4 linked regions of the Homo sapiens genome follow. The protein of the gene in region 2 interacts with the protein of the main gene of each other region in a pairwise test. Each region holds a gene or a part of one and is shown on either strand. Other genes may lie near its edges.

Evidence for each region.
Region 1: the proteins of EVI2A (region 2) and MALL interact in binary tests that used the Homo sapiens proteins (3 or more experiments, as listed by UniProt).
Region 3: the proteins of EVI2A (region 2) and UBIAD1 interact in binary tests that used the Homo sapiens proteins (3 or more experiments, as listed by UniProt).
Region 4: the proteins of EVI2A (region 2) and MAL interact in binary tests that used the Homo sapiens proteins (3 or more experiments, as listed by UniProt).

Annotation. Positions count from the first base shown.
Region 1 is NC_000002.12:110,084,794-110,091,824, forward strand, and holds part of MALL (MAL-like protein), read right to left. Parts: intron 6,978-7,031; coding exon 6,810-6,977; intron 2,905-6,809; coding exon 2,779-2,904; intron 1,731-2,778; exon of another isoform or gene 1,640-1,730; intron 965-1,639; coding exon 902-964; 3' UTR 1-901.
Region 2 is NC_000017.11:31,318,623-31,326,540, forward strand, and holds the start of EVI2A (protein EVI2A isoform 2 precursor), read right to left. Parts: upstream 3,001-7,918; 5' UTR 2,873-3,000; intron 1,892-2,872; exon of another isoform or gene 1,810-1,891; coding exon of another isoform or gene 1,751-1,809; intron 402-1,750; coding exon of another isoform or gene 392-401; coding exon 1-391. Other genes in the region: NF1 (neurofibromin), read left to right, coding at 7,198-7,630. UniProt on the Homo sapiens protein: May complex with itself or/and other proteins within the membrane, to function as part of a cell-surface receptor.
Region 3 is NC_000001.11:11,276,181-11,283,211, forward strand, and holds part of UBIAD1 (ubiA prenyltransferase domain-containing protein 1), read left to right. Parts: intron 1-2,233; exon of another isoform or gene 2,234-2,693; intron 2,694-2,996; exon of another isoform or gene 2,997-3,095; intron 3,096-7,031. UniProt on the Homo sapiens protein: Prenyltransferase that mediates the formation of menaquinone-4 (MK-4) and coenzyme Q10. MK-4 is a vitamin K2 isoform present at high concentrations in the brain, kidney and pancreas, and is required for endothelial cell development.
Region 4 is NC_000002.12:95,049,681-95,054,496, reverse strand, and holds the end of MAL (myelin and lymphocyte protein), read right to left. Parts: coding exon 4,791-4,816; intron 1,117-4,790; coding exon 1,042-1,116; 3' UTR 505-1,041; downstream 1-504. UniProt on the Homo sapiens protein: May be involved in vesicular trafficking from the Golgi apparatus to the cell membrane. Plays a role in the maintenance of the myelin sheath, and in axon-glia and glia-glia interactions.

The sequences.
Region 1 (7,031 bases), on a different chromosome or scaffold from region 2:
TAATGCTGGAGAGGAAAGGGGAGGGGAAGTGGGAGGGTGGTGGGCAGGGTGGCTTGACCCTGTCAGCCTCCCAGGGAACTCGGGACCACGGCTCCCCAGCACAGGCTGAACAAGTACCAGGAACAAGGTCTATGCATCTGCGTTAGATCTGAAGGCCTTGGCAGCACCTCTTCAATTTTAAGAGAATCAGGCCGGGCGCGGTGGCTCACGCCTGTAATCCCAGCACTTTGGGAGGCCGAGGCGGGCGGATCACGAGGTCAGGAGATCGAGACCATCCTGGCTAATACGGTGAAACCCCATCTCTACTAAAAATACAACTAAATTAGCCGGGCACGGTGGTGGGCGCCTGTAGTCCCGGCTACTCGGGAGGCTGAGGCAGGAGAATGGCGGGAACCCGGGAGGCGGAGCCTGCAGTGAGTGGAGATCGCGTCACTGCACTCCAGCCTTGGAGGAAGAGCGAGACTCCGTCTCAAAAAAAACAAAATAAAACAAACAAAAAAAAGATCAGACTGAGTATTCCCCTAGACCTACTCTAGGGAAGCCCATAGCTGAGGCAAAATCCCCAAACAGACTTGGCATTAGTGGGGCTAGGATTCTCCATTAGTGGAGTGAGGGCTTTGATGTGAGTTGTCTAGAAGAGCAAGTTCATGGTCAGATAATTCCAAGAGACAGTTGTTTTCCCAGGAAAAAGAAAAGCTTCCTCCTATTCAGCAGAGTGAATTTAAATGTCCAAACAAAGTGTGGTGTCATCGCTCAGTCTGCAAGGACGTTCTGTTAATCCCGTGGACGTTTTAGTGGATCTTCCGTTTGTCATCCAGATGGCAAACGTTGGAAGCTGCTTTTGGGGACCAATAATTGGAGCTTTCAAAGAGCATTTCCCCCTTGGCCTGGCGCCTGTGCATCAGTGGTAATAGATGCTGAAGGCATGGAGAATGTAGAGCAGCGTGGCGATGAAGGCGAAGAACTGGAAGGAGGTGGAGAGTGACTGTTAGAGACAGCAGCGCCAGCTCCTGCCCACCCCTCAGGTACCCTCAGCCCCACTGCCCAGGAGGCCACGCATGACCCTGCCTCCTCGCCTCCTGCGTGGCCTGAGGGCAGCAACCCCTGGCCAACAACTCCCTCTTCTGGAAACTCTCCATCAGGGCCTCCCTGGGGCCGTCCTGGTGTCCTGCCCCGACTGCAGTCTCCACCTCATCTGCACCTGGCTGTGAAGCAGGCTCACCTCCACCACAGCTCTGGGCCCATATCCCACGCTGACCTCCTGCCCGAGGCCCGCTCTCCTCTGCCCACCTCCAGCAAATCTGTGTTCTGAACACTCCTACAGCTCCCCTCGCTGGCCCAGAACTCTGCCCTGAGCGGCTGCTTATCAGCTCCTCGTGAATGTTCAGACATCCTCCAGCTCTTCCTGGCTCACACTGAGCCCCTGACGTTTCCTCACAAGCCTGACAAGCCCAGTGGGCCCCAGGGTCCTCCTCTCGCCCCACTCCCTGAGCCTGACCCCTGTGGCCCCTGGCTCCTCCTGCCTCCCTTGCCAGCCATATGCAAAGCCACCCCAAAGGCTACTGATTTCCCTGCCTAGCTCTTGGGACATTCATTTTTCCCTTGTCTCAGCCACCGGCATCCCTCGGCAGGACTCCTCATGGCCTCACTTGTCCACTTCTTCCTGCCCTGCCCCTCGAATCTGCTCCACCATTTGGGCAGGGCAGGCAGAAGTGGACAAGTGAGGACACTTCTCACTCATGGGGAGAACACAATCCCGTTGCCCCACGTTGAAGCTGTATGATGGCTCTGCTCTTTTCTCAGGGTAGGGCCGTCACCTTCAATACCTTTCAGGCCCTGCCAAACATCCCAGCCCCACTCTGCCCCACTGTCCACTCACACGCTCCTCATTCAGTCAGTCAGTCAACAAATATCTTTTAAGGACCTGCTTTCCTTCAAGAGCAACTGTGGGTATAACAGTGAAGAAAATATTCAAAAATTCCTGCCCTCATGGAGCTTACATTTGAGAGATAAGAAGCAGATAGCAGCAAGATAGATGAGTAGCACATACATGGGTTAGATGGAGGTAAATGCCACCCACTGTGGAGTGCACTGTGACCCTCTGGGGTGGCCACAAGATATTTCAGCTGCCTTCTGGCCTGTCTGCCTCCCTTCCCTCCTCATCAGGTGAGTTTAACTTCCTAAACTTGCAAGACCAGCAACGGCCCCTGCAATCCTCCATGGCCAGCTGTCCCAGCTACACCACCCTCCTGGCTGCCCTTGAGCACACAGAGGGTCCTTGGCAGGGGTAACTGCCTGGTGGGACCTTAGCAGGGGTAACTGCCTGGTGGCCCCTGCCTCCTTCTGTCCTCTTGACAGGGCCTTCCCTGATGCCTCCTCCCCTGAGACCTCGACATTCCACTTTCCCCTTCCCTGCTTCATCTCTCAATAGTTCAGCCATGCCGAGGGATGCGGGCCCCATTCCAAAGGCAGTGGGTGCCATTGAAGGATTTTCAGTAGGAGAGAGACATCTGTTCCAATTTGTGTTTTGGAAAAAGAAAATTCTGCAGACAGCGTGGGGGGTGTCTAAGAGAGAGGAAAGCTGGAGTGGGAACAATAGAAGGTAAAAGAGGACCCCTGAACGTGGGTGCACATGTTTACAGGGACACACATCCCTATCCCCTGCCCCCATGGCTCCTTCCACTTGAGGGCTCAGGGTCTATACAGCACAAGCAAAGTTAGGCCTCCTGCACGAAACATCCTCCAGGCAAGACTGCTGTCCTTGGCCAGCCCACTCACCGAGGCTGCCGAATTAATGTAGTAAATTCTTGGGTCCAGCAGTTTCTCAGAAACAATCGTGGCATGTACTTGTAGGACGGCAGCGCTCATGTACAGGATGCCAGTGGTCCCGTGGTACAGGCTGTCCTGGAAATGCAGAGCAGAGCCACGCATGGCCACATCAATCAGGTGAACATTTTCCTCTCTGGCTACATAGCAGTAAAGAATGAGCAAATGAGGCAGGCCAGCCCCCTAGAGTCCTGCCTTTTTTTTTTTTTTTTGCAGTGTGATTTGGTTTGGCTCTGTGTCCCTGCCCAAATCTCATCTCGAATTGTAATCCCCACATGTTGGGGGAGGGACCTGGTGGGAGATGACTGGATTATGGGGGCAGTTTCCCCATGCTGTTCTCGTGATAGTGAGGGAGTTCTCATAAGATCTGATGGTTTAAAAGTGTGACACTTCCCTCTCTCACTCCTGCTGCCATGTAAGGTGTGCCTTGCTTCCCCTTCGCCTTCCACCATGATTGTAAGATTCCTGAGACCTCCCTAGCCATGCAGAACTGTGAGCCAATTAAACCTCTTTTCCTTATAAATTACCCAGCCTCAGGTAGTTCTTTACAGCAGTGTGAGAACAGACTAATACAGAAAATTGGTACCAGGAGTCAGGCACTGCTATAAAGATACCTGAAAATGTGGAAGCAACTTTGGAACTGGATAATGGGCAAAGGTTGGAACAGTTTGGGGTACCCAGAAGAAGACAGGAAGATGTAGGAAAGTTTGGAACTTTCTAGAGACTTGTTGAATGATTCTGACCAAAATGCTGATGGTGATATGGACAATGAAATCCAGGCTGAGGTGGTCTCAGATGGAGATGAGGAACTTATTGGGAACTGGAATAAAGGTCACTCTTGCTATGCTTTAGCAAAGAGACTGGTGGCATTTTACCCCTGTCCTAGAGATCTGTGGCACTCTGAACTTAAAAGAGATGATTTGGGGTATCTGGCAGAAGAAATTTCTAAGCATTGAAGCATTCAAGATGTGACCTGACTTTTCCTGAAAGTGTACAATCATATGCATTCACAAAGAGATGGTCCAAAATTGGAACTTATGTTTAAAAGGGAAGCAGAACATAAAAGTTTGGAAAATTTGCAGCCTGATCATGTGTTAGAAAAGAAAAACATATTTTCTGGGGAGAAATTCAAGCTGTCAGCTGCAGAAATTTTCATGAGTAATGAGGGTCCCCAAGACAAAGGGGACGATATCTCCAGGGCATTTCAGAGATCTTCACAGTAGCCCCTCCCATCACAGGCTCAGAGACCTAGGAGGGAAAAATGGTTTTGTGGGCCAGGCTCAGGGCCCTGTTGCTCTGCACAGTCCTGGAACACAGCACTCTGCAACCCGGCTGCCCCAGCTCCAGCAGCTGGGGGCCAAGGTACAGCTTGGGCCATTGCTTCAGAGTGTGTAAGCCTCAAGCCTTGGCAGCTTACACATGGTGTTGGACCTACAGGCATGCAGAAGGCAAGAATTGAGGTTTAGGAACCTCTGCCATGATTTCAGAGGATGTATGGAAATGACTGGATGTACAGGCAGAGTCTGCTGCAGGGGTGGAGCCCTTATGAAGAACCTCTACTAGGGCAGTGCAGAAGGGACATGTGGGGTCAGACCCCCCACAGAGAGTCCCCACTGTGACACTGGCTAGTACAGCTGTGAGAAGAGCTGTCCTGTAGACCCCAGAATGGTAGGTTCACTGACAGTTTGCACTGGTCACCTTGAAAAAGCACAGACACTCAATGCCAGTTTGTGAAAGCAGCTGCAGGGGCTGTACTGTGAAGAGCCACAGAGGTGGAGCTGCCCAAGGTCTTGGGTGCCCACCCTTTGTAACAGGGTGACTTGAATCTGAGACATGAAGTCAAAGGAGATTTTGGAATGTCGACATTTAATGGCTGCCCAGCTGGGTTTAGGACTTGCATGGGGCCTGTAGCCCCTTTGTTTTGACCAATTTCTCCCATTTGGAATGGGAGCATTTACCCAATGCCTGTACCCTTATTGTGTCTTGGAAGTAACTAACTTGCTTTTTGATTTTACAGGCTCATAGGCAGAAGAGACTTCTCTTGTCTTAGATGAGACTTTGGACTTAAACTTTTGGGTTAATGCTGGAATAAGTTGAAACTTTGGGGGACTGTTGAGAAGGCATGATTGTATTTTTAAATGTGAGAAGGATGAGATTTGGGAGGGGCCAGTGGTATAATGATATGGTTTGGCTCTTTGTCCCCACCCAAATCTCATCTCCTATTGTAATCCACATGTATCAAGGGAGGGACCTGGTGGGAGGTGATTGGATCATGGGGGCAGTTTCCCCTATGCTGTTCTCATGATAGTGAATGAGTTCTCATGGGATCTGATGGTTTAAAAGTATGGCACTTCCCCCTCCCCCATCTCTCCTGCTGCCATGCAAGGCATGCCTTGCTTAGCCTTCACCTTCCACCATGATTGTAAGTTTCCTGAGGCCTCCCTAACCATGAGGAACTAGTCAATTCAACCTCTTTTCTTTATAATTTACCCAGTCTCTGGTTGTTTATAGCAATGTGAGAATAGACTAATACACAGTGTTTTTAATGTAATATCTATGTCGTAAGCAATGGCAGACTAATAAAGATCAGTATATTTCAGTTACGCAAAGTCAATCTTGGTCTGAAATATTAAATGAAAAATTCCAGAAATTAACAATTAAATGTGTGCCTTTCTGAGTACAATGATGAAATCTTGCACTGTCCCGCCCTGTTCCACCTGGGATGTGAATCAGACATTTGTCTAGCATGTCTACACTGTCTGTGCCACCCATGTTAGTCGCTTTGTACTCATCTGGGCTATCAGATCAACTGTTGTGGCACTGCAGTGCTTGCATTCAAAGAATCCTTATTTTACTTCATAATGGCCCCAAATTGCAAGAGTAGTGATGCTGGCAATTTGGATATGCCAAAGAGAAGTCATAGGGTGCTTTCTTTAAGTTAAAAAGTATAAGTTTTCAGCTTAATAAGGAAAGAAAAAAAATATGCTGAGGTTGTTAAGATCTACAGTAAGAATGAATTGTCTATCTGTGAAATTGTGAAGAAGAAAAAAGAAGTGCATGCATAGCAAATTCGGAGTTCAGTACTCTCTGAGGATTCAGGCATCCCCTAGGGGTCTTGGGACTTATCCTCCGGAGATGGGGGACCACTGTATACTGTCTTAGGTATGCTGAGGAATTGTTTACTTCGTATACATGTGATAATGTGAGAAAGTTTGCGGAGTTTTTTTGGAAACATACTGAAGTGTGTGGAATAGAATGGCATGATGTTTGGTGTTTGCTTTAAAATTCCTTAGTGGGGACAAAGGCTAGATGAAACAAATGTGGTAAGGTCTTGATAATGCTGGAATCTGGGTTATGGCTACATGAGGGCCTATAATACAATATTCTGTACTTTTAAATATGTCTTCAATTGTTCAGTGTGGAACAGTTTTAAATGGTTTTTTGAGATGACGTGATAAATAAAAATTAGTGATGTAATATTAAATGAAAGCATCTACATCCAAAATTATTTGTAGAGTACAATTAAAGTATATATATACATATATATACATATATACATATGTATATACGTATATATGTATATATACTTTGCATATAATTCATGTGGGATATGGAAGAAATACCCTGTCGCAGGGATTGTGTTAGGGCCTTGAGAATGGAGTGATTTTTTTCCTACTAGCTTTTTCTTCAGTGTTGCTCCAAGGATTTTACCAGGAAGAAAATTTAGGGGAAACACATCAGAATATGCTTGATCACAGGTCATTGTGTATTCTCCTAACAGGGAAGCCAGTGAAGGGGAATACCAGGAATTATTTACGCTTGCAGATAAATGTCTTCATTTTAGCGTGGTAGTAAAAATGGTAAGATAAAAAGTCTTGGTTCCATAGGAGCCTAGCCCAGGATCCCTCCCTGCCCAGAAAGGCCAATTGTCCTCACCCAACCCAGAACGTCCACCCAGGAAGAGCCATGCTGCTGGTTCTTACCAGAACTCTCCAGGATTCAAATCTTTTGTAAAATCCAAACAAGTAAGACAACAGGAACATCAAGGAGATGAGAAACGAGGTGAGCGAGACATACATCACCCATCCTTGCAGCAAGGGGTATACTATGTGGGTGGCGGCTACCATGGTCCAGACCAAGAACCCAAATATCTGGAAGATAAAAGCATAAAAGAAGGGGCTTCATTAGCTAGTGTGGAGTATGTT
Region 2 (7,918 bases):
TGTTGTTTTCCGCACAGACATCCTTTTTGAAAATTTCACCATGACTTTTGCTTGTGTTTTCAATGCTCTGTACTGTTGAAGGACTGTTGCTGACGACAGAAGGTATATAAAGCTCCTGTTCAGATTTAGAAGTTAAAGCTACGATGTGAGATGTTTCAGGCATGTTTGTAGAATTACCTTTATAATCTACTTCAGGAGTTATAGGGTTTGTGTTAATGTTTTCATTTTGGTTTCTGCCTGTCTTGTTTTGAATAACTGAATCCCAGGAAGAAGTACTGTTAGCCCACAGACGGGTATAGTTTGCTTTTGTTCCAGGAGACAAAGAAAAAACTGTTGTCATCAGAAAGGCAAGATGTAGGTAATGTCCTGTGTGTTCCATGTCCGTGGGCATGCTTGGCAATCTGTTGGGATAGCAATATAATTTGTTAGTTTGTGAAAGAATAATGGATCCTAGTTTTGGTAATTGTAGTTAAAAGATAGTGTTGAGATGTTACAAGTAAACTACAAGCTTATGCCTAATATTCGCTACCCTGAATTCCTTCTCAACTAAATTTCTTTTCTATTCAGCTATGTATGAAGAAGCATTTTAATTTCTATTAACACTTTTAGATGCTAGAAGTTAGCATTACAAATAAATATTAATCATTTTAAGTGGACTATCATGGCTTTATATAGTTTTCTTCCTTTGAAGCGTGCTAGACTTCTGCTTTGAGTCAGTTAGTTCTGCTTTTACTTTTCTGATTCCTTCTTTAAAAAAAAAAAAAAATTAAGGATCATTCTTACAGAAACTACCCACCCTCTAACCTGTCACCAATCTTTACAGAAGAAATGTGGCCTTGAGCTTCTTGCTTCATGTATGAAATAAATGCAAATTTTTTTGGTGGAAAGAGGGGAAGTTTGGTAGCAACCAAAAGAAACTGAACTTCAAATAGAAATTCAAGGTGTTCTTTTTTTTTCTTGGGTGTTCATCTTGAAGCTTAGAATAAAGCTGGTACTTAGAAATACATTTGTAAGTGTATTTGTGAACGCAATTTTACTGTGGTGGTTGTCTCTTTTCATTTATATTTCCCTGGACTGACTGTGTCTTTCTGAAGGCAAAGGCATACCAGTTTTCTCAACCTAAAAATCTGAAGAAAAAAAAAAAAAAACAGCAAATTTCCTCTGAGTAGACTTAAAAGTTCAACAAAAGTTGCTGGGTTTTCTTTTAAAGCATCATTTATACCTAGCATTTTTTCTGATTTTGACATAATTGTAAAAAAAAATGTGTAATAAAATAGAAATAGAGCATCAGGATCTTGATGATTTGGGATGAAGTGGCAGGTTATAAGCATCTCAACAGATAATTGAAAATGTTGAATTTCCGCTTTGGCCCTGAGCTTGCTGGAAACTAGTACAAAAAGGAGACAAGTTATATTATACATTTTTTAAATCTACCAAATGATTGATTTAAATAGAAATGGCATATCTTAGAATTTAACAGTTCCATGTACTGCTAACCCAGCAGGAAAGATTTATAATCATTATTAAGGTATCTTATAATAATATACCAGTTTGTCTTGAGCTACTTTTGAAAGGAGTATTTTATTGTTAGCATTTATTTGAATGAACTAAAAGCAAAACTATATTGTTCTCCTGAGATTTACTAAATGAAATTGCCTGGTTAAGAACCCTACGTATGCTATAGAAATTCTTCTCAAATGTACTTAGGAGTCCTTTTATTTAAAAAAAAAAAAAAAAGGCAGATTCTTACCTAGCTAGTATAGGTAGGGCCTGAAAGTCTTTGTTTCCAAACCAACTCCTAAGCAACATGGATGCCACTGCTAGTCAGGCTTTTGAACATCAAGGTTTTATAAGAAATGGTTGTTATATGTCATTGGCTGACATTTGTATACTATTAAAATACAGAAATTGAAAATAAGAAATGTGATACGTTGAGTTATGCAAACAAAAGTAGCATGTAATAAACAATGCTAACTGGAGACTATATTTCATATTAATAGTAGGGAGGAAAAACTATTAAATATTCCAGGATTAAGATTACTTTTTAGATTATGACCTTTAGTAGACAATTAAAGGCCCAAGTCACTGGCTTTTGTATAATAGTGTTCAGCTTTAATTTTTAAGTTTAGTGACATAAATCTTTGGATATTTCATGATTCTTCCACAAAAAGAAATACTTGAAATTGGATTAGCAAGTAATTTCCATCTTTTTATACTAGACTGGACTTCTGTATTAGATGCTAGAATGATTTAAAGTAGATTATTCTTTTCACATTAGTTCATTAACAGTGTAGTATACATCATAGTATTGGTACACATTTTAACAGTGCTTACCACGGAACAGATAATAGGCCTGCTGTTGATTGTCTTCAGCCAGATGTACTGCAGTGCCCAAATAAACAAACTGTATGACAAAATGAGACTTTCTCTTGCCCTTACAAATGCCTGAGAATTGAGGACTGTTTTTACTCCAGTTTATGCCTTGGAGGCCAGGTTGTGTTATCAGAAGTTTTCTTATATCTGATCATTTTCAGTAGAATTTATTTTCAGTAGAATTTGTAATGTCCAAGCATTAGTAATGAGAAATTTATTTTTTAACTTTTGAAAAATAACAAAACATTTCCAGTTTACTTGAGGAAACCAAACTTAGATCCTTCGTAATCCTAATTTAAAACTCCATGGCGATGGCAAATTTTTTCATTTCTAACTTAAAATTTATGTAACAGGACAGAAAAAAAAAGTATACATTTTCAGTCACAATTCTAGTTTGTTAGTGAGATTCTTACACACTTTGATAGCATTTCCTCGAACACTAATCTGTCAGACGTTAGAAGTGAAAAGGCATAAGAAAAGCCGTATATATATGACCTACCTTACAAAATGCTTGGTCAAAATCTGATTATAACGTGATTTTGATAAACCACTTCTTTTCTTGTCTTCTTTTTAAAGCAGAATAGACTTGGAGAATATGAGCCTTAAAGTAAATCTGCAGTAAAAAAGGATATGTGCAGCTAGTTTTCCACTTTTAAAACCAAACCACAGATGACACATTTCCTTTCCACTGCAACTAAAGCACATGTCACAGGAGGGAAAAAAAAAAAAACAACGAAAAAGCTCCAACTTCTCTAGTTGGCCACTGGCATGACAGGAGGCTTTGTAGAACCAATCCCCGCCTCCAGAGCAGGGAGGGTTTTCCACTTAATGCCTTTTGACAGTATGCTCATTCTATAGGCCTGCTACATGCTTTAGTGTCATTCAAAAGAGGTTTTGAAATGGTATCTTCCATTTCAAATCTTCTCTAAAAGACTTATTTGAAATCTACAGACTGATTTGAAAATGTGAGTTTGGAGTCCATGGGATACTGATCAGATAATGTAACAATTGTGGAACTGCAGCAATTATTTGAGAAAATATCTAGTAAACTTAGATTATATGGGACAGAAAATGCTTTCGTGTGGTGTAGTGTGTGTATACACACACACACACACACACACACACACACACACAACTGTCAAACATCCTGTCATCACCTCAAGTTTAACATGACTGAAACAGACTTTAAGAACTAGGTATGGGCTGAACACGGTGGCTCACACCTGTAATCCCAGCACGTTGGGAGGGTTGACGCAGGCAGATCACTTGAGGCCAGGAGTTCAAGACCAGCCTGGCCAACATAGAGAAAACCTGTCTCTACTAAAAATATAAAAATTAACCAGGCAGGGTAGCATGCACCTGTAGTCCCACCTACTTGGGAGGCTGAGACAGGAGAATAGCTTGAACCCGGGACGTGGAGGCTGCAGAGATCATGAGATCTTGGCTGCATGAGCTAAGATCATGCCACTGCACTCCAGCCAGGAAGACAGAGTAAGACTCTGTCTCAAAAAAAAAAAAAAAAAAAAAAAAAAAAAAAAAAAGAACTGGATATGGCAGCACATATCTGTAATCCCAGCTACTAGGTAGGTTGAGGTAGGAGGATCACTGGTGGAGCCCAGGAGTTCAAATCCAGCCTGGGTAACATAGCAAGACTCCATCTCTTAAAAATTAATTAAATTAATGAAATAAAAAGAACTTTATTTTTTCTTTAAAGGAGGCTGCCTGTGACAGTCTTCTTGTTTCTGTTCATGATAGCAACATTCTAATATCAGAGGCTTAGTATACAACACATCATTTTAATTTAAGTCCTCTCAGTCCTGATCAGACTTTGAATCATGTTGGTCCTTCCTTCATATTGTTGGATCAGTTTCTTTTTCCCTGTTTTTACTGTCAACAGTACTATTTTAGATCCTTATCAGGTCATACCTAGACTCTACAGTGCCTTTTCGGTAGCCCTGAATCCTTCTTATATCTTGTATACATCACTGTCTTTGGTCATACCACCCTTTCTTTAAGGGAAAATAAAACCGGTTGAACAGTTCCCTAATACATACAACAATGATTCAGAAATGTTTGTGTACATAAACATCAGATGAGAAGATTGTTTAAAAATTATAAAAGCAGGACATGGTGGCTCACACCTGTAATCTCAGCACTTTGGGAGGCTGAGGCGGGAGGATTACTTGAGCCACAGAAATTCGAGACCAGCCTGGGCAGCATGGCAAAATCCTGTCTCTACAAAAAATACAAAAAAACAAAAACAAAAAACTAGCCGGGCATGGTGGCGCTTATCTGTAGTCCCAGCTACTCAGGAGGCTGAGGTGGGAGGATCACCTGAGCCTGGGGAGGTCAAGGCTACAGTGAGCTGTGACCGTGCCACTGCAGTCCAGCCTGAGTTAAGGGAAAAAAAAAAAAGATAAAAATTTCCAGGCCCCACTACATAGATCCATATTTAGTAGGTCCAGGTTGGGACCAGGAAACTGCATTTTTATCAAGCACCACAGTTGATTCTGACGCCAGTAGTCCACAGAACATATGCTGAGAAATGGTGAGCCCCTAGTAGAAAACCTAAGCCCTTTGGTTGGGCAGTTATGGTCTCTCCACAATTTGACTATTCTGTATTTTCCCAGCTTTATCTCTCAAAACTTCTCTACCTGAATCCTCCATTCTGGCTAGACTAGCTGTCTCTTCAACACATCTAGTTACCTGTTTCTTTTCCTTTTTGCCTTTCTCCATAAGGCCTGCCCAGTCCTCTTGCTGAGTCTGCATTCCTCCTTACCTGATTCAGCCACTGTATCTTCTATGTAGCTTTCACTGACTGCCCAGTTTGTGTTAATCTCTCTCTCTCTCTCCTTTGTCTTAATAACAGTATTTTCTCTGCATTTCCTTTGATAAGTGATTACTTTCTACCTCATATCTTCTATCTTGAAATATTTGTGTTGTTTTAAAATCATTTGACTTGTCATATTTTTATCTTATTTTCTCCCAACAAGATTAAAAATTCTGAGGTGAAGTTTTTTATTGATACATGATAATTTGTACATATTAATGGAGTATGTGTGATTTTTTTGGTTTTTTTTGTTTTTGTTTTTGTTGGAATCTCGCTCTATCGCCCAGGCTGGAGTGCAGTGGCACAATCTCAGCTCACTGCAAACTCCCCTCCCAGGTTCAAGCAATTCTCCTGCCTCAGCCTCCCAAGTAGCTGGGGCTACAGGCACGTGCCACCACGCCCAGCTAATTTTTGTATTTTTAGTAGAGACAGGGTTTCACCCTGTTGGCCAGGCTAGTCTTGACCTCCTGACCTCAGGTGATCTGCCCGTCTTGGCCTCCCAAAGTGCTGGGATTGCAGGCGTGAGCCACCATGCCCTGCCTGTATGTGTGATATTTTGATACATGCATATAATGTGTAATGATTAAATCAGGGTGATTAGGATATCCATTGCCTCAAAGAAAAGAAATTGTTTCGTCTAGCTGTTTTGAAATATACAATGTTATTATTAACTAGTCACCTTACTATGAATAGTAGAACTTGTTCCTTCTATCTAATTCTAACAATACATATATTATTTATTTTATTATTATTTTTTTAAGACAGTCTCACTGTTGCCCAGGCTGAAGTGCAGTGGTACAATCTCAGCTCGCTGCAGCCTCTGCCTCCCAGGTCCAAGTGATTCTCGTGCCTCAGCCTCCCAAGTAGCTGGGATTACAGACATGTACCACCATGCCTGGCTGATTTTTGTATTTTTAGTAGAGACAGCGTTTTGCCATGTTGGCCAGGCTGGTCTCGAACTCCTGGCCTTATGTAACCCACCTGCCTCAGCCTCCCAGAGTGCTGGGAATACAGGCGTGAGCCACTGTGCCCAGCCCTGATTATATTTTTATATCCATTAACCAACCTCTGAGGTAAAGATTTATTTTAACTTACTTAGTAGTATTATCACCAGAATCATCACATATGGAAAACTTTGGGCCTAAGTTAACATAGATTGTTTTGATTTGAAACTTTGGTACCATTACTTCAGGGCTTTTTCATGGTCCTCACTGTGGCTGCTCCCATTTATTAGTATTCTTTTGGTTTTAAGCAACATATGACCTAATATGGCTTAATCAAAAAATGGTATTTATTGGCTTATGTAACTGAGCAGTCCTGGGATAAATTTGACCCCAGGAGAGGCTTTATCTCATACACAAATGATATGGCCAGGGTTCCAGTTTGTCTATTTCTCAGCTCCTTCTCTTCAGTCTTTTGGGAGGCTCTTCTTTTATATCCCAAAATATGAGCTAGCAACTCCTAGGGCTACGTATTCCCTTGTTTATAAACACCAGGAAAGAAATATCTCAAATCCCAACAATTTAAGCTAAACTACCTGAACTGGGCCTCTTTGGCCCTGGTTGTCCTGGTTTGAATAATGTGTTCATTGCTGAATCAGTCTGTGATCAAGGTGGGATAAATGGATTGGCTAAAACCATCTCACTCCAGAGCTCCAGATGGGTCATTCCTACCAGACTATTCGCCTAAGGAGTTTGGTGGGCCCTGCAGGCAACCAACTAATTCCCACTGTTTTCTTCCTTTCTTGACTCATGGGCAAATTTTTTATTGTTGTCGTGGCTCAAAATTTTTGAATTGGAGATTTGTCTCTTCTCTTAGCCTTATTTCTCAGTGTCCAAAAAACAACTGATTTAAAAAATGAATCCAGACTTTGAAGAATTGTTTTATATTATTCTCTCTAGAAAATGAATCATAAAATAAAATTGATTAGTGGCATCTGTATATTTATTTTAAACACTGCTAATAATCTTTGTCTTTTTTGTCATTTTCCTTAGGTTCAAAACTGGTCAAATCAATGGTGATTTGCTGATATACCATGTCTTACTGACTTTAAAGCCATATTATGCAAAGCCATATGAAATTGTAGTGGACCTTACCCATACCGGGCCTAGCAATCGCTTTAAAACAGACTTTCTCTCTAAGTGGTTTGTTGTTTTTCCTGGCTTTGCTTACGACAACGTCTCCGCAGTCTATATCTATAACTGTAACTCCTGGGTCAGGGAGTACACCAAGTATCATGAGCGGCTGCTGACTGGCCTCAAAGGTAGCAAAAGGCTTGTTTTCATAGACTGTCCTGGGAAACTGGCTGAGCACATAGAGCATGAACAACAGAAACTACCTGCTGCCACCTTGGCTTTAGAAGAGGACCTGAAGGTATTCCACAATGCTCTCAAGCTAGCTCACAAAGACACCAAAGTTTCTATTAAAGTAAGTTCCAGTCTGTGTTTTGTAAACGATTCATTGCTTTTCTTGACTAACTAGACTATATCCTGGCCTCCCTAGGTGTCCTACCCCTATAGTGGTGTATAAAATGTCACGTAAGGCTGTCGCGGTGGCTCACGCCTGTAATCCAAGCACTTTGGGATGTCAAGGTGGGCAGATCACGTGAGGTCAGGAGTTCAAGACCAGCCTGGCCAACACGGTGAAACCCCGTCTCTACTAAAAATACAAACATTAGCCGGGTATGGTGGTGGGCACCTGTAATCTCAGCTACTT
Region 3 (7,031 bases), on a different chromosome or scaffold from region 2:
GCGATGTTTGGTGGCTTGTATCTAGCGGGTGGTAGTGGAAGAGGTAAGTAGCCAGATTCTAAATATGCTTTGAAGGTAGACAGGGTTTGCTGATGGATTGGATGTGAGGTAAAGAGAAACAGAGGAATTAAGCATAACTCAAAGGTTTTTTTTTTTCTTGGACACATTCCACATTTTATTTACATTTTCAGACTAACTTTGGGCTGGGTGCTGTGCCTCATGCCTGTAATCTCAGCACTTCGGGAGGCCAAGGCAAGTGGATCACTTGAGATCAGGAGTTCCAGACCAGCCTGGCCAACATGGTGAAACCTTGTCTGTACTAAAAATACAAAAATTAGCCAGGCGTGGTGGCATGTGCCTGTAGTCCTAGCTACTCGGGAGGCTGAGGCAGGAGGATTGCTTGAGCCCAGTAGGCAGAGGTTGCAGTGAGCTGAGATCATGCCACTGCATTCCAGCCTGGGCAACAGAGAGAGGCTCCATCTCAAAAAAAAAAAAAAAAGACCAACTTTAGTTTCAAAATTATATCTCCATATATGTATCCCTTTTTTGTTGATGTCACTTAACCTTAAGTGCATAGTTTGTTAAAAAAAAAAAACTGTAAGCAAATATTTACCATGTCTGTTACGTGTAACACACATGAACAGCTTTTAACAGAAATTCATCAACTCCCCCCCAACATTTTTTATTATAAGATAGGTATCAAAACAATCCTGAACATATTTTTCATACTACTAGTAGTCAGCACCCACACCACTTCAAAAATTAACACATTTGTGCTGGATGTGGTAGTTTTTACCCATAATCCCAACACTTTGGGAGGCTGAGGCAGGCAGATCACCTGAGTTCAGGAGTTCGAGACCAGCCTGGCCAGCATGGTGAAACCCCATCTCTACTAAAAATACAAAAATAAGCTGGGCATGGTGGTGCATGCCTGTAGTCCCAGCTACTTGGGAGGCTGAGGTAGGAGAATCGCTTGAACCTGGGAGGTTGTAGTGAGCCAAGATCTCATCACTGCATTCCAGCCTGGGCAACAGAACAAGACTCCATCTCAAAAAAATAAAAAAAATTAAAAAAATCAAACACATTTGTGACAGTGTTCATTGTACCTGCTACTTTTTTTTTTTTTTTTAATTTAACGGAGTCTTGCTCTGTCGCCTAGGCTGGGGTACAGTGGTGCGATCTTGGCTTACCACAATCTCCGCCTCCCAGGTTCAAGTATAATCCCAGTAGCTGGGATTACAGGTGCCCGCCTGGCTAATTTTTGTATTTTTAGTAGAGACGGGGTTTCGCCATGTTGGCCAGGCTGGTCTCTCTAACTCCTCACCTCAAGTGATCAACCCTCCTTGGCCTCCTAAAGTGCTGGGATTACAGGCGTGAGCCACTATGCCTGGCCAATACCTGCTACTTTTTAAACAATTTCAACTGCAGCTCTCTTTCACTAAGCAAGATGGATAAAGCATGCCATTTCTGTTTTCTTTTTTCTTGAGACAGAATTTTGCTCTTGTTGCCCAGGCTGGAGTACAATGGCACGATCTCGGCTCACCACAACCTCCACCTCCGGGGTTCAAGCAGTTCTGCCTCCGCCTCCCAAGTAGCTGGGATTACAGGCATGGGCCACCACGCCCTGCTAATTTTGTATTTTTAGTAGAGACAGGGTTTCTCCATGTTGGTCAGGCTGGTCTCAAACTCCTGACCTCAGGTGATCTGCCCACCTTGGCCTCCCAAAGTGCTGGCATTAAAGGTGTGAGCCACCTCTCCTGGCCTCTGTTTTCTTTTTCCTTTCCTTTTTTGTTTGAGATGGGGGTCTTACTCTGTCACTCAGGCTAGAGTGCAGTGGTGCGATCTCAGCTCACTGCAACTTCTGCCTCCCGGGATCAAGCGATCATCCTACCTCAGTCTCCTAAGTAGCTGGGACTACAGGCGCGTGCTACCACGCCTGGTTAATTTTTGGATTTTTTGTAGGGACGGACTTTCACTATGTTGGCCAGGCTGGTCTTGAACTCCTGGCCTCAAGTGATCTGCTCGCCTGAGCCTCCCAAAGTGCTGGGATTACAGACATGAGCCACTGTGCCCAGCCCTGTTTTCTTTATTGAGATTTTTAGTCTTTAGAAACACACATGCTTCCACTGCCATCTGACACTTCTTACCACGCTTTCATCTTGTAAACCTGAATTATATTTCGAGTACTCCAAGTTTATGTTTAAATGACAGTACCTTAACAAGAGAAAAAAATTGGGTTGCATTTTTCCTGTTACCTGAAAACATAATGGGTGTACATATATTAAATATATTCTTACAAATGTCCAGGTCATGTTTACCAGCCGGAGTTCTTTTATTTAACGTGTGGGTATTTTGCATTGTGATATTTAATCAAGACATTAACACGAGTAGAAGGTTGTTGATATAAGACAAGTTTGAGATCCACTAAAATTAATTGTTGTATGTTTGTCCTTCCAGTGGCTGTGGAAGCTTCATATTTTCTTTGGACATCATTAGACGTCTTAGCTCCTGAAGTACAACTTTAATGCTATATGAATTTTGTCATTTTGCTAACACTGGTGTGCTGCGGTCATCCACCATCCCACTGGAGTTATTTATTCCATTCATATTAATTCTTGTTACAAATCTAACTGATGGGGGAGCTTCTGGGTATTTGGGTCCACTTTCTATTTTCAGGCTATATATTCTTTTTTTTTATTTTTGAGACAGAGGCTCGCGCTGTGGCCCACACGGGAGCGCAGTGGCGTGATCTCGGCTCACTGCAACCTCTGCTTCCTAGGTTCATGTGATTCTCCTGCCTCAGCTTCCCGAGTAGCTGGGATTACAGGTGCACACCACCACACCCAGCTAATTTTTTGTATTTTTAGTAGAGATGAGGTTTCACTATGTTGGGCAGACTAGTCTCAAACTCCTGACCTCGTGATCTGCCCTCCTTGGCCTCCCAAAGTTCTGGGATTATAGGTGTGAACTGCCATGCCCGGCCTATATTCTCTTTTCATAATTTGTCCTTGGTGGCCCAATAATCATGCCTGTCCACCTTGTAAATGTCATATCTTCATCATCTTTAAGGCCCCAGTTAATCATACCATTGCCTATCAATAGCTGCATAAGCATAACTCAAAGGTTTTGACCTGAGAACTGGAAGATACCATCTGGAGTGATGTCATCATGTGAGAAGGGCAAGGCTGGGGATAGAACAAGTTTTGGGGGAAAAGCAAGCAATTGACTTCGTGGTTTTTTGTTTTGTTTTTTGTTTGTTTTGAGACAGAGTCTCACTCCGTCTCCCAGGCTGGAGTGCAGTGGCATGATCTCGGCTCACTGCAGCCTCTGCCTCCCGGGTTCAAGTGATTCTCAGCCTCCCAAGTAGCTGGGATTACAGGCGTCTGCCACCATGCCTGGCTAATTTTGTATTTTTAGCAGAGACGGTGTTTCACCATGTTGTCCAGACTGGTCTCAAACTCCTGACCTCAGGTGATCCACCCACCTTGGCCTACCAAAGTGCTGGGATTACAGGCATGAGCCACTGCGCCTGGCCAACTTTGGACATCTTAATGTCTATTAAATCTCCTAACAAAGATGTCAAATGGGTAGTTCAAGTTCAGAGAAGCCTGGGCTAGAGATTACATATCTGGGAGTCATTGGTCTATAGATAAAGTTGTAGGACTGGGTGAGGTCATCAAGGGGGAGGGAGTGTTGGTAGAAAAGTCAGTCCTGGTCTGAGCCCTGGGACACTCCCACATTAGAGGTGGGGGAAGAAAAGGCACAGGTAAAGGGGATGTGAGCAAGCATCCAGAGGAGTAAGAGGAAAATCAAAAGGCTGTGGTGGCCTGGCAGCTAATTATAAAAAGTTCAGTGAAGGAAATCAATGAGGTGGTGTAATAGAAAGTACAAGGTGGTGGTGAAGGGAAGAGGCTGTCTTTGTGAAAGTGACGTTCAAACTAGGACTTGAAGACGGAAGGATAAGGAGCTGGCCACGGGGTGGAATTGGAGTCTGATTGTGATGCTGAGTCCTCCAGGGCTGAAGGACCACTAAGTGCAAATGTGGTGGGTGAGAGAGAGTGTGACATTGGCTAGGATCTACTGAAAGGTCTGTGTGAGCCAGAGGGGGCATGAGACACAGTTGGTGAGTTAGGCAGGGTCTCTGTCATGGCGATCTTAACCAGTCCTACTCCCCAACCTCCAGGGCTCAGTCCTTGGGCCTCTTTTCTCTATCTCCATGTACTCCCTTGGTGATGTAGCTCATGGCTTCAGATGCCATCTGTTAAGCTAGTGACTCTTAAACTCCAGACTCATATCCAACTTCTTGCTCAGCAACTTCTCCTAGAACTGTCTCATAAACATCTCAAGCTTAACATGTCTGAGACCAAATTCTGATCTTCTCCCCAAGGAAACCTGCTTCGCCCACAGCTTTTTCCCCATTTTGCTCAATGGCAGCTTCATCCTAGTTCTTCAGGCCAAAAGCTGTGGGCATCGTCCTTGACTCCCACGTCTCACATCCAGTTCATCAGCAAATTCTGTTGACTCTCCTTTCAAAATGCATGTAGGATCTGACCACTTCTTACCGTGTCCAGCCACCACTGTGATCATCTGTCCCTGGATTTTTGCGGCAGGCTCCCAACTGGTCTCTTTACCTCTGTTCTGGTCCCATTCAGGCTGTTCCCACTCAGCCACCAGAGTAATTCTGTTAAAATATAGGGCAGCCCTGTCAGTCCTGCTTAGAACTCTTCAGTGGCTCCCATCTTGCTCAGAGTAAAGGCCAGGGTCTTTACAGTGACTCCCTAGGGCCCTACATTCTTTGCCCACCTTTTGCCCTCCCCCCAGTTCTCTGACCCACCCTCCTCCTTTCTTCCTGCTCATCCTGGGCCAGCCACACTGCCCTTTCTAGTCCAGGAGCATGCACAACCCCTCCTGCCCCTCCCTCAGGTCCTTTGTAGATGCAGCTTCCTCTGTTTGAAATGCTTTTCCTGCTTCTAACCATGTGGTTCACTTTCTCACTTCCTTCACCTATTTGCCCAAATGTCAGCTGCTCAGTGAGGCCTTGCTTTCTACCTTGCTTAAAATTACACACCCACTCCGTGCCCCCACCTGATACTTCCCCTGCTGCTCTTCTCTGCATTAGTTTTCCTCATAGCACATGTTACCTTCTAATGTGCCATATAAAGTACTTAATTGGTTAATTATCTTCCCCCTTCGACTGCGAGCTCCCTCCCTGCAGTCAGGGATTTCTGTCTCTGGTATTAGCTGAACCCCTAGCACCCAGAGCACTGCCTGGCATGTAATATTACTTAGTAAATATCCAGTGAACAAATGGGAAGGCATTGAAATATACTGAGCAGAGTAGTGACATAATCTGGTTTAAGATTTTTTAAACATTGTCTTTTATTGACATATAATTGACACACAGTGAAATGCACAGGTTTTTAGTGTTGCAGCTTGATGAATTTTGATAAATGTATACAGTTGCATAACCCACACCCCGTCATCATCCAGAACACTTCCATCACCCCCAAAAGCTTCCCAGTGCTTCTTGCCTGTCAATCCCACACTCCCTGCCCCCATCCAGAGACAGGAAAAGAACCACTGTTCTGATTCCTCTCACAGAGATTAGTTTTGCCTGTCATATAAATGGAACCTTTCACTATGAACTATGTATGTATGTATGTATGTGTATTTATTTCAGTCTGAGCTCTCGTCTGGCTTCTTTTGCTCAGCGTGATGTTTTTGAGATTCATTGTTTTATTGCGTGTATCAGTAGTTCCTTTTTTTGCTGACTAGCATTCCATTGTAACATACCACAACTTCTTTTTATCCATTCTCCTTTTCAGGGACATTTGGATTGCTTCCATATTTTGGCTATTACGTCTGAACATTCATGTTCAAGTCTTTTTGTGGATATTTGTTTTCATTTTTCTTGGGTAAATGCCCAGGAGTAGAATTGCTGGGTCACAGGGCAGATGATGTTTAATTTTATGAGAAACTGCCAAACTGTTTTCTGAAGTGGTTGTACTTCTTTACACTCCCCCCAGCAAGTGTTCCAGTTGCTCTGCGTCTTGCCAACTTTTTGACTTAAGTCTTAACAGATTCATTCTGGCTGCCGTGTGGAGAACCGGCCCAGTATTTCACTGTGTAAGCTCATTCAGAAAATGGGGTTGGGAGAGGAGGAATGCCTAAAAGGAAATTCCCAGATGGGCCACGTCTCTGAATCAGGTAGAGCACATGAAGCCTTGGGCCATGTATCAAATGCTAGGAAACAGCTTTCTCCCCAAGGGCTCTACTGTTTTCTTGTGTCAGATAACCAGATCTTTTTCCTCCCCAGAGTGGGTTGCTCTTGGTTTTGGGGTGGGGACAGAGATCTCTGCTCAACCTTGCTTACATCACTTTTTTTTTTTTTTTTTTTCAAAAGACAGAGTTTAGCTCTTGTTGACCAGGCTGGAGTACAATGGTGCGACCTCTGCTCACTGCAACCTCTGCCTCCTGGTTCAAGCGATTCTCCTGCCTCAGCCTCCCGAGTAGCTGGGATTACAGGCGTGCACCACCATGCCCGGCTAATTTTTTTTTGTATTTTTAGTAGAGATGGGGTTTCTCCGTGTTGGTCAGGCTGGTCTTGACTTCCTGACCTCAGTTGATCCACCCGCTGTGGCCTCCCAAAGTGCTGGAATTACAGCGTGAGCCACTGTGCCTGGCCTTTTTTTTTCTTGAGACGGAGTTTTGCTCTTGTTGCCCAGGCTGGAGTGCAATGGCACGATCTCGGCTCACCACATCCTCTGCCTCCAGGGTTCAAGCGGTTCTTCTGCCTCAGCCTCCCGAGTAGCTGGGATTACAGACATGCGCCACTACACCCGGCTAATTTTTTGTATTTTTAGTGGAGATGGGGTTTCTCCATGTTGGTCAGGCTGGTCTCGAACCCCTGACCTCAGGTGATCCACCTGCTTCAGCCTCCCAAAGTGCTGGGATTACAGGCGTGAGCCACCATACCTGGCCGCTTACATTGCTTTTTGCCGAGTGATCTAAGGAGGTGTTCTTGGAGACTC
Region 4 (4,816 bases), on a different chromosome or scaffold from region 2:
GCATTCACCCCTTGTCACCGTACTTCCTTTCACTCTGTAATTTCCTCTCCTTTCTCTCCTATGGAGTGGCCCGAGGAAATTCTAAAATAATGTATTATCCACACAATGGGAACAAAGCAGACTGCCCAGGAACACGCTGATGAGCTTCACAATGAGTGAATGAAAACTTGTGCACCGTGTTTTCTTTTGGTGGAAGGAGGTTCTAGTGGGGCACAGACTGTTGTGTCTTGTAGGAAGGAGAAGCTGCCCCTGGCTGGCACTTGGCCAGTTTCCAGAGAGAGGGGAAGCCATCTGGGCAGGTAGCTGGGAGGGTGGGCTCCCCAGCACCGGGCTCTGAGAGTGCAGTGGCCTGGCACACACAGTGTCCGTCGTCTGAACTGCCACCTGATGCTGTCTCTTGAGATTCAGGTTAAGTCAAAGGATTCCTCAGAAAGAAAGCTGAATTGATGGTATTCTTGATGCTGAGGAATTCAACCCAAACCCAAAAAACACCCAACAAATGTATTGAACATTAAGACATTTTATAAAGTATTTCACAGGGTTATCGTCTTCCACCATGGACCTCTGGAAAGATCTGTTGGGTGAGTTTTAGTCCCCATGACATGCAGAACATCCATGAAGACTTAAAACATGGCACAAGATGGGGCGCTCGGGAGAGCTTGTGGACAATACCAACAGGTAGTTCTCGAGAGCTGCTCCAGGGGTCAGCAGAGGATCTTTCTTTCCTTCTCAGGTCACGGTCGCCACTTCCCACCCCCGAACAAGAAGGTCCCCTTTCACAAACAGGAGGTGACCCTAGCAGACAGCACAGCAGTTGGAGGTTAGACACAGCAAGCTCCCAACCCGGACGCGAAGGCACACGGGAGAGTAAACACAGCACCCACGAGCAACAGGGCAGGGCTTTTTTTTTTGGGCAGTGGGGGGGTGGTTGTTTTCTTTTTTCCACCATCAAGGGCATTTCTGTTTTCTAAAAAGTTATGCCGGAAAGTGGGGCGGCCAGTTAACACCATCTGGGTTTTCAGCTCAAGTTCTACTGCGGCTTTATGAAGACTTCCATCTGATTAAAGAGAACACCGCATGGACCACGTAGAGCAGAGTGGCTATGTAGGAGAACACCTGGAACCAAGAGAAATGGCCGTTAATGGGTTTGTGTAGGGAGGGCGAGGCACAGCGTCTGCACTGCATCCAGCCCCACGTGGCGTAGGGGGGGCCAGACCCAGAGAGCTTGGGCTGTCATTGCTTCTCACCCTCACATGGACGCCCTCCCTGCTGAGCCCAGGTGTGCACCAAATCCTCTCAGTACAGAGCTCCATGTGACCTAACAGTCTCCTGGATCTGGTGTGGAAGGTAAGACTCTCCACTATCACCCAGCATCACATTCGTCTCAGCTTGAGGTTTCGGCTGACTTGAGATGGAGTCCTCAAAGACCCCTCCAATGAAAGCATCTCAGGCAGGTAACTCTCCAGGGACAACTTCCTCCCCCAACACCAGTGAGACCAGCGCCCTCCAGCTGTGGTCCTGGTAGCTCGGTTGAGAGATTGTAAATACCTGGGTTTGCTGGCCCTGGTGAAAGTCTCCATGCTGCCTGGACATTCTCACCCTATCATTATTTTGTTTTAGGATTCTTAATATCACAGGTGTGGCTGAGAGAGCCAGACTTCATAGGAAGTGAGGGACAGAGAAGGGGAGAAGGGATTTTGAGCTTTTGTCTAAAGGAGGGGCCTTACTGTTGGGACCATCCAGTCAGCCACTGTGGCCCTTGGAGCGATGGCCCTGCTTTCTGGGGACTTGCTGTGTCCTCCTGGGCACTGTCTGCTCCCATCACCCTACTCCCTGAAGGCCTGCCTGCTGCCAAGTCCAATCTCTGCACCTGGTTTTGTGACCTTGGTTAGGGGTCAAGAGTTTCCAGCTCAGGCACGACGTCCATTTAGGGCGGCTACGCCTCTGTGACTCCTGAAAATGCTCATCAATCCCAGCCCTCAGGGTGCCTGCTCTCCTGCCCCTACACCTGGCCAAGCCCTTTCCCTCATTGCCTGGAGGCGGTGAGTAAGCTGAATTATTGAATAACACATTTAAGAGAACGTATCTGGGCAGGAGCAGTCAGACACCAGTGGGCAGCCCTCCATAAAAGGTGGGCATTCCAGACCAATGAAAGCCTTTGGCAGAAGCACCTTGGAAGTCCCCAGCAGGAAGAGCAGTGGAGACTCATTTTCCAAGTGGGGTCAAGAAATGGCCCACTGGGAACACGTAGAGCTGGGCACGAATGGGCAAATTTTGGCTTCAGAAAGCCCTCTCCCTAAACTGTAGCCATCACTGCCCACCATTGTATAATCTAGAAACCTCCAGATTTCTCCAGAAATTTCCATCTCGCCCCAGGCGACTTCCACCCATCCCTGGGGTCCCTTTGGCAAAGCAGCTCCGCCACCCACAAAGGAGAGAGGGAGGAGCTCAGCTTGGAACAGACCCTAATTAGTAGCCACACAGTGGATGTGAGGCAGGCTGGCTGCTTCCAAAACCAGGCTGTGTGAGAGAGGGTGTGAGGTGCCTCCCTGTACCCAAGTATCCCCTGGACTGGGCATGCTGTGGTTGGGCGGGTCTGGGATTGAATCCTGAGTAACGAACTTCTTTCTCTCTCACAGACGGATGCAGTTGATACCGTGAGTTGAAAGGTGTGACTTTACATCGAACGCCGTGCAGATTTCCCCTTGGTGGTTTTATCTGGGCACATCTGCCAGCTGAGAACACTCTGGTTCTCAATTCTAACGCTCCTGTCTGCGTGAACATATTCGTGTCTATCCAACTCAACTAAAAAAAAATGGGAACATGGTCAGTCATGGGATGGATAAATAGATGTTGGTCTATTCCTACAAGGGAATACTATACAGTAATGAGAACAAACAACCCACATCTACACCCAGCCACTTGGGTGAGTCTCACAAACACAAGGGTGAGAGAAAGAAGCCACACATGAGTACCCACTGTATAATTCCACTTATATGAAGTTCAAAGGCAGGCAAAACTGAACATGGTGCTAGAAATCAGAATTGGGTGGTGGTGGGGGTGCACAGTGATGGGGACAGGACTTGAGGGGATTTCTGGGAGTTGTTTATCAGGCCCTAATTCTTAGTCCAGATGCCAACTACACTGGGGAGTTTGCTCTATGAGAATTCATCAGACTGTGCGCTGGTAACTGGCCCTAATTCTTAGTCCAGACACCATCCACACAGGGAGTTCGCTGTATGAAATCCATCAAGCTGTGGGCTTGTAACTGCACACCTCTCTGGCTGTGTGCTGCCTTTGATAAAAGGTAAAAGAGGAAAGTCAGAAGGCAGTAGAGCCTAGTGGTTCTCAACTAGAGACCTGCCCAGCGGGAAGGGGTGTTCATTCCCCTAGCTGGGTTTTTCCATCAAGTGCTGACCCACTAACCACATCCCATCTACATTTCGCAACCTTTGTTCACAACAATTTTATGGAAATTATTGTCAGACACTTTGTTGATGTTTGTTAAAAGAGAAGGCTTGGCTGGGATGGGGGAGGTATGAGGCAGTCTTGGGAGAGGGAGATGAGATGGAATTGTGTGAAGAAGATGGAGGGTGGCTCACCAGCCTCCCCAGGAAGGAAGATCAGTCAAGATGCCCCCTGGCTGTGCTGCTGCTTGGAAACCAGCCATGTTGGGAGATGGGCCAACACGGGAGATGTTTCCACACCGCGGGACCCCTGGGGGGATGCCAGGATCCTGAGGGGGCCCTTTTTAGGGGAGCGATTGTAGGCTGGGAGCTTGAGGGCAGTGTGTGGTTTCCCCAGGGCAGGGGACTGTGCAAGGGGACCAGCAAGTGAGGCTTTGAGGGATTTTCCCCTGGGGCCCTCCTTCTGGGAGTGGGAAGAGGCACTTCACCAACCCCATTTCTAAAGCCTATCTGTGGGTCTTCTCTCAGCCTCTGCCCTACACTTTCCAAAAAGAGGGGATGACACAGCTTTGGCTACTAGAGCTGGTATCTCAGGATCTGTCACCACATTCTACCTTGGGATTTGCATAATTCATAGGTTAAGTTCTAGAGATCTGAAGAGTGCTCTTTCTGAAACTTCTTACTTTTTAACAATACCCATGGTCAGAAGCATGTTTTATATCGTAGACTGGTGCAAGGGCACACATGCACAGCTCTGAAAAACATGTGATGAAACAATATATTCTGTTACCCTGTCATTCTGATCCAGTCCATTAAGAAGAAAATCCACCTGGCCTCAGCGTCCCCACCCCTGGCTGGATGCTTCAATGGACGACCACTTGGGGAGAGTCAGGAGACCCATGAGGTCAGACTCACAGCCCCAAACTGGTGCTGAGAGTGTGGGGACTGGGCCTCCAGCGTTGATGCCAGGTCCCACAATGACTGGTGATCTTGGGCCAGTCACACTCTCTGGCCCCACTTCTCCATCTGTGAGATGGGTGTCATAATCCTGGGTTGTAGGGTTGCCATGGATGTTAAATAAGATTGTTCAGGGAGCACTCGGACAGGGCGCTGGGCAGCCGCATCCCCTCACACATCTGCCCTCTGCAAAGCCCACGCAGGCCTGGGGCATGCAGCCCTGGCCGGACGACTAAGCGGAGTCTTGGGCACAACATGACACTGCCCTTCTCGGGGGCTTTCCTGCTCCAGGCATGAAGGCAAGGTTTGACCTCACTCAAAAGTTAGTGAACTGAAAACAGACCAAGGGCCTAGGCAGCCTCCACACACACCCTGCCAGCCACGGAGCCGCCCGCTGTGGACACAGCCCCAGGTGCCCGGACTCACCACGGCAGCAATGTTTTCATGGTAGT